Homo sapiens: one gene and its partner. The protein of the gene in region 2 purifies or fractionates together with the protein of the main gene of each other region. This does not show direct contact. Each region holds a gene or a part of one and is shown on either strand. Other genes may lie near its edges.

Region 1 (3,755 bases), on a different chromosome or scaffold from region 2:
CATATTACGAGCTGTATAGACATTAACTCTTTTATCCCACAATAAATGGGGGAGTAGGTATTATTATCTCACATATAAGGAACTTGAAGCTCAGAAAAATTATGTCAGAAGTCACACAGCTTCTACGTGGTTGAGCCTGGAATCACACTGAGCAATACTGGGACTCTAAATCTCCTGCTCTTTTTAAAAGTTCATTGCTCTTTGCAGGAAGGGCCCAGGAATGGTACAGATGATGCCACAGCAAGGATTGATTGATTAGCCAGTGTTCCTATACTCTTCTATTTTGGTTAAATCAAGTGATCCTGTAATAAATTAAAAAACTCTTTGGAAATCTTAATGGCCTTTTTGTGGCCAGAGTGACACTTACTTAGATAACTATAAATTTCTCCTCTTCCAGAAAGTGTTCCTACATTTAGAGGATCACAAACTGCTGGTCTGAGTCAGTGATTCCCGCCCTGACCGTGAACTGTGATGTGTTTGCCTGTCCAGTCTTCCTAAATTCCCCAAACCGGCAAAAGGCAGGGATATTTTAGTTATTTACGTGAAAAAGCCAAGTCCAACTCACTTGTGCATCTTTTGGATCTTGTCTCCTCACCTCCAATCTTTATTAACTATGATAATAATCATCCAAAAAAAAGTTTTGGTTAACCAGCATTTAATTATTTTTTTCTCAGCCCTATCATATAAAATAAAAGTAAACAATTTTCTAACAGGTATTTTAAAATAAAGCATTTATTTAATCATTTGAGTAAAAGATATTTTCATTTAGACTAATGACAGTGAAGGGAATGTTAAAACATTTGTTGTAAAACATTTTTCACTGATCTTTTGTTTTTCTTGTTTACCCTTTTGTAAAACCTTTTGTAAGTCCACCAAATTTCACTAGCATTTAAGTGTGCTTCTAGAAAAAATAAGTCTTTGTGTAGAGGGAAGTCAAGAAACATAGAAAGAAAACCAAACACTTTAAAAAGGAAAAAAGGAAAAAGTTCCTGCATGTGGTTTTGTTTTGTGTTGTTTTGTTATTTTGTCTCTAAAGGAAAGAAATACCAGGCCGGGAGCAGAGGCTCACGCCTGTAATCCCAGCACTTTGGCAGGCTGAGGAGGGCAGATCCCTTGAGATCAGGAGTTCGAGACCAGCCTGGCCAACATGGCCAAACCTCATCTCTACTAAAAATACAAAAAATTAGCCTGGTTTGGTGGTGCATGCCTGTAGTGCCAGCTACTCAGGAGGCTGAGACATGAGAATCGCTTGAACCCAGGAGGCAGAGGTTGCAATGAGCCGAGATCGTGCCACTGCACTCCAGCCTGGATGACAGAGCGAGACCCTTCTCGAAAAATAAAATAAAATAAAACAAAATAAATAAAAAGAAGAAAATACTTCTTATTTTTTTGCAGATTTTGTCAAGTAATGTTAATCATATGCCAGAGCTTGATGTTAATGAACAAATTGGAGGAATGGTGTGGGCATCTGGGAAGTCCATACGTTGACTTAACAATCCGTTTATCTCACATGGCCAGCAAATTAAATAATATGTGAGTTAAACAAATAAATGATACATACAGTTTTACATATCTGATCTTTAAGAAAACTCATTGGAAATATTTTAATACTAAATATAACATGTTCATACCTTCTCTCAGCAAATGCAAAGATCCATGTATCTCTAGCCTCAAGCCAAGGACCTGGAGTAGAGTGAGTGTCTGGGATTCTGACAGGATGCAAAACTCAGCATACTTAAAATCCTTCCTGGTGCAGAACTGTCTTCAAGTCTTAATGAGTCTACTGTGCTCTCCTATAATAATTTTGTCTCTAATGGGTTCTGAATTATGTAAGGCATCTTCTGGAAACATGAAATTCCTCTCTAAACCTGGGCTTTCCTTGTTATTTCTAAAGATTCTATTATCTATCTGTCACTTCTTGTTGAGGTCATTGTAACAGCATCTAGCAGCATCTGCCCACCACCCATCCATCTACCCTGCCTAGTAAAAACAAAAATACTATGTTTTTGAGAGATAATCTGACTTCTTAAGAAAACATATAATTTTCTCCACTTTCCAAAATGTATAGTTTTAGGGAGGTTGTTTCATTCTTTTCACTAAGTAGTAAAATTTGTGACTCTGTGACATCTATTTCCTGTGCTACTCAGATTTTTTTTTCTCTTTCTCTGCAGACTGTAGCTTGTTCAGATGGTTATGAGTAGCAGTCATTGACCTCTAAATAACTCAGCTGTTATATTTTAAGAAGAAGCAATGGGTTGTAGTGGGAAAACAGTAAATTGAAAGTCAAAACACTTATTCTTCGGCTTCAGCTCTCCCGTAGCTTGGACCCGTTCGCTGTTCCATCCTCCTTGCTATATGATTGAGGTGCTAAATTAAAGAGATGAACTTCATGTGGGAAGTACTTCATGTGTTATGAATTGTTCTAAGATTGTTTGCTAGTTTGATGGCTTAAAAACTGTTACTTTCTCCCAGCACTTTGGGAGGCCAAGGCAGGTGGATCATTTGAGGTCAGAAGTTCAAGACCAGCCTGGTCAACATGGTGAAACCCCATTGTATTTTGAAACAATACAAAAATTAGCCAGGTGGTAGTGGTGCGCGCCTATAACTGTAGCTACTCAGGAGGCTGAGGCAGGAGAATCGCTTGAGCCTGAGAGGCAGAGGTTGCGGTGAGGCAAGATTGCACCACTGCACTCCAGTCTGGGCAACAGAGTGAGATCCTGTCTCAAAAAAAAAAAAAAGAAAAGAAAAAAAACTCTACTTTCAAGAGAGATATTAACCTTATGTCTAGGAAAGGATCTTAACTTTCTAATAAGATGCAATGATTCTAGTAAATAGCATAACTTGGTTAAAATGGAAACCTCTACAAGTAATGCTAAGCAAGAACAGGATTTGATGGATACCATTTTTTTACTTCCAGTCTTCTCAAGGTTTGATATGATTGATGGGGTATGCGGGCGTTGAGAAATACAGAAACAACAACAAAAAATTCTCTAAGGAACTGGCTTTATTGTGGAAAATGCTTACAGAGAATACTATTTTATTTTCCTGTTGTTCATTTGTATTGATTTACTCAATGCCAGCTAAGATTTGTGATCAAGTGTCTTCCATCTTCACTGAGATCAAAATTTAAAACAACAGTACTAAAGCATAAAATAATGTTCTTAGATGTTAGAAAAGACATCCTTCAGTGAAAGACTAAGAAGAGTTACTAATTGTGAAAGGCTTTCCTCTATAATGCCACAAAAAAATAGGACAGTTTAAAAGTATGTCTTTTATGGAAAGAAGAAATAATTGCATGTGATGTTTATCTAAGATCCTGCATAAATTTTGTGTTGAAAAAATTCATAATATATGCATGCATAATTAAAATAAGAAAATATGTAAACAAAGAAAAATACTTTTCCACTCATGCCCTTCTTTAATAAGTTGCATCGTAATACAGATTGCATTTGTTAATCATTGGTATTTCTTTGGAAGATTCACTTTAGTCAACCAAATTGGAAGTTTTGATTGCTTGTGATGAATCTCTTATAGCCCTTCTTGATTATTTTTCTAAATTTGATGACAAACATTGCAACATGTCTCAGCCAATTAGGCTTGTCAACTTCCTCTGTGGTCCCCAATCAAGTGTTTTACTTTGGAAATGACAGGAGATCCTTATTAAAAGTCATGCTTCTTGGATAGAGATGTGGCAGCTTGCATGTATATGATGGCACAGAAGACAAGCTGCCTTTCGTTAAAAGCAATAGAGGAAA
Region 2 (3,755 bases):
GTGAATCCTGGAATAGAACAAGGACATTAGTGGAAAAATTGGAGAAATCCAAATAAACTCTGTAGTTTAGTTAATTATACAGTACCAGTGATGACTTCTTAGTTTTGATAACTCTATTATGGTTATACAAGAATTTAACACAGGGAAAGCTCAGGGAAGGGGATATGGGAATTCTCTATTTTTTAAACTTTTCTATTAAGCCTGAAGTTTCAAAATAGAAAGTTTTTAAAAAAAAGTTAATAAGACAGCTGTAATTATATTGTTGTCTTTTTATACGTTTACAAAGGGCCAAATTCACTTGATGCTCTTTCTACCACTACCCTGCTGATGTGGTTTGGCTGTGTCCCCACCCAAGTTTCATGTCGAATTGTAATTCCCAGTGTTGGGGGAGGGATCTGGTGGGAGGTGATTAGATCATGGGGGCAGATTTCCCCCTTGCTGTTCTCATGATAGTGAGTTCTCAAGAGATCTGATTGTTTAAAAGTGTATAGCACTTCCCCCTTCACTCTCTTGCTCTCTTGTTGCCACAAGATGTGGTTGCATCCCTTTCATCTTCTGCCATGATTGTAAATTTCCTGAGGCCTCCCCAGCCATCCTCCTGTACAGTCTGTGGAACTGGAAGTCAATTAAACCTCTTTTCATTATAAACTACCCAGTCTCAGGTAGTTCTTCATAGCAGTGTAAAAATGGAAGAATACAAAAAATTGGTACCAGAGAAGTGGGACATTTCTATAAAGATACCTAAAAAATGTGGAAGCAACTTTGAAACTGGGTAACGGGGAGAAGTTGCAACAGTTTGGAAGGATCAGAAGAAGACAGGAATATGAGGGATGTTTGGAACCTCCTAGAGACTTGTTGAACAGTTTTGACCAAAATGCTGATAGTGATATGGACAATGAAGTCCAGGCTGAGGTGGTCTCAAATGGAGATGAGGAACTTATCAGGAACTGGAGCAAAGGTCACTCTTGCTATGCTTTAGCAGAGACTGGTGGCATTGTGCCCCTGCTTTAGGGATCTGTGTAACTTTGAACTTGGGAGAGATGACTTAGGGTATCCGGCAGAAATTTCTAAGCAGCAAAGTGTTCAAGAGGTGGCCTGGTTGCTTCTAAAAGCCTATGCTCATTTGCATAAGCAGAGATAACTTATATTTAAAAGCAAAGCAGAGTATAAAAGCTTGAAAATTTGCAGCCTGACCATGTGGTAGAAAAGAAAAGCCATTTTCTGGGGAGAAATTCAAGCTCACTGCAGAAGTTTGCACAAGAGGAGCCAAATGTTAATAGCCAAAACAATGGATAAAATGCCTCCAGGGCACTTCAGAGACCTTCGTGGCAGCCCTCCCCAGCCCCACCAAACAGGCCCAGAGGCCTAGGAGGAAAAAAATGGTTTCGTGGGCTAGGCCCTGGGCCCAGCTGCTCTGTGCAGCCTTAGGACATGGCAGCCTAATTCCCAGCTGCCCCAGCTCCAGCTGTGACTAAAAGGGGCCAAGGTACAGCTGAACCATTGCTTCAGAGGGTGCAAGCCCCAAGCCTTGGCAGCTTCCACGTGCTGTTGGGCTTATGGGTGTGCAGAAGGCAAGAGCTGAGGTTTGGGAGCCTCTGCCTCAATTTCAGAGGATGTATGGAAACGCCTGGATGTCCAGGCAGAAGTCTGCTACAGGGGTGAAGCCCTCATGGAGAGCCTCTACTAGGGCAGTGCAGAGGGGAAATGTGGGGTTGGAGACCCTACACAGAGTCCCCACTGGGGCACTGCCTAGTGGAGCTGTGAGAAGAGAGCCATCATCCTCCAGACCCCAGAATGGTAGATCCACTGACAGCTTACACTGTGTACCTGGATATGCTGTAGGCACTCAACACCAGCCTGTGAAAGCAACCATGGGGACTGTACCCTGCAGAGCCACAGGGGCAGAGCTGCCTAAGGCCTTGGGAGCCCACTCCTTGCATCAGAGTGGCCTGGATGTGAGACATGGAGTCAAAGATTATTTTGGAGCTTTAAGATTCAAAGAGTGCCCTGCTGGGTTTCAAACTGGCATGAGGCCTTTAGCTCCTTTGGGCCAGTTTCTCCCACTTGGAATGGGAGCATTTACCCAATGCCTGTACCTCCATTGTATCTTGGAAATGACTAACTTGTTTTTTATTTTACAGGCTCATAGGTGGAAGGAAGTTGCCTTGTCTCAGATCAGACTTTGGAGTTGGACTTTTCAGTTAATGCTGGAATGAGTTAAGACTTTGGGGGACTGTTGAGAAGGCATGATTGTGTTTTGAAATGTGAGAAGAACATGAAATTTGGAAGAGGCCGGGGTGGAATTGACATGGTTTGGCTCTGTGTCTCCACCCGAATCTTATGTTGAATTATAATTCCCAATGTTGGGGGAGGGACCTGGTGGAAGGTGACTGGATCATAGGGACAGATTTTCCCCTTGCTGTTCTGCTGTTCTCATGATAGGGAGTGAGTTCTCACAAGATCTAGTCGTTTAAAAGTGTGTGGCATTTCTCCCTTCACTCTCTTGCTCTCTTGTCGCCATGTGAAGATGTGCTTGCTTCCCCTTCACCTTCTGCCAAGTTTCCTGAGGCCTCTCAGCCATGCCTCCTGTACAGCCTGTGAAACTGTGAGTCAATTAAACCTCTTTTCTTTATAATCTACCCAGTCTCGGGTAGTTCTTTATAGCAATGTGAGAATGGATTAATATACCTGCCACCCTTTTTGCTGGGACCATGCCTCAGAGTTTACAAATCTGCTCCCCATGTACTATCTCCTGGAATCCTCAACAATGCTGTGAGACATTCCCACTTTGAGTTGATAAGATGGGGCTCAGAGAGGCAAGACCTTACGCTTGCCTAAGGTCACCCAGCTGCTCTTTCCTTTCTCCTGCACAGTTACATCAGAAGCCAGTTGGTGACAGAAAAACACGGTCCGCTCAACAAGGATCATACACAAGCCGGTGATACTTTATTATATAAGAGAGTTGTCAAAAGGACAGTTTCATTTCTGTTTCAGAATCCCCACATTCCAGTGATCCATCTGTTGACACAATTAACATAAACTATTTGCTGATATTTACTGAGTGCTTGCAATGTATCAGAGTCATTAAATAAGATGCAACTTCTACTGTGAAAACTGGAATCTTCATTAGGACACAGACTTAGAAAAGGCCCAGTTTCAAGGATTCTGACTTGCACAGACTGAGCACTCCCATTTCCAGAAGTTCGAATACCTCCTTTCTTATCTAAATGAGAGAAAAGGGGGGAAAAAAAGATTAAGATCAAGCCAAAATGGTCTTGGTGAATACATTCAACCATCAGGACTCCCTGATATTTACCCAGCTGTTATGGCCAGAATCAGAGAGTGCAAAAGTCCTAACACACATTTGATTCAGAGTTGAAATTTTTAAAATTATTATTATTATTATTTTGAGACAGAGTCCCATTCTGTTGCCCATGCTGGAGTGCAGTGGCGTGATCTCGGCTAACTGCTATCTCTGCTTCCCAGGTTCAAGTGATTCTCATGCTTCAGCCTTCTGAGTAGCTAGGATTAGAGGTGTGTGCCATGATACCTGGCTAATTTTTGTATTTTTAGTAGAGACAGGGTTTTGCCATGTTGGCCAGTCTGGTCTTGAACTCTTGGCCTCAAGTGATCCACCTGCCTTGGCCTCTCAAAGTGCTGGGATTACTGGTGTGAGTCACTGTGCCTGGCCTATTATTATTATTGTTTTGTAGAGACAGGGTCTTGCTTTGTTGTCCAGGCGGGTCTCGAACTCC

The links. The genes of interacting proteins can lie anywhere in the genome.
Region 1: the proteins of CMSS1 (region 2) and PCDH7 purify together in Homo sapiens (affinity purification with mass spectrometry; 3 studies listed by BioGRID and IntAct, with this or other methods). This does not show direct contact.

The regions. Positions count from the first base shown.
Region 1 is NC_000004.12:31,136,252-31,140,006, forward strand, and holds part of PCDH7 (protocadherin-7 isoform d precursor), read left to right. Parts: intron 1-3,755.
Region 2 is NC_000003.12:100,177,773-100,181,527, reverse strand, and holds part of CMSS1 (protein CMSS1), read right to left. Parts: intron 3,224-3,755; coding exon 3,140-3,223; 3' UTR 1-3,139.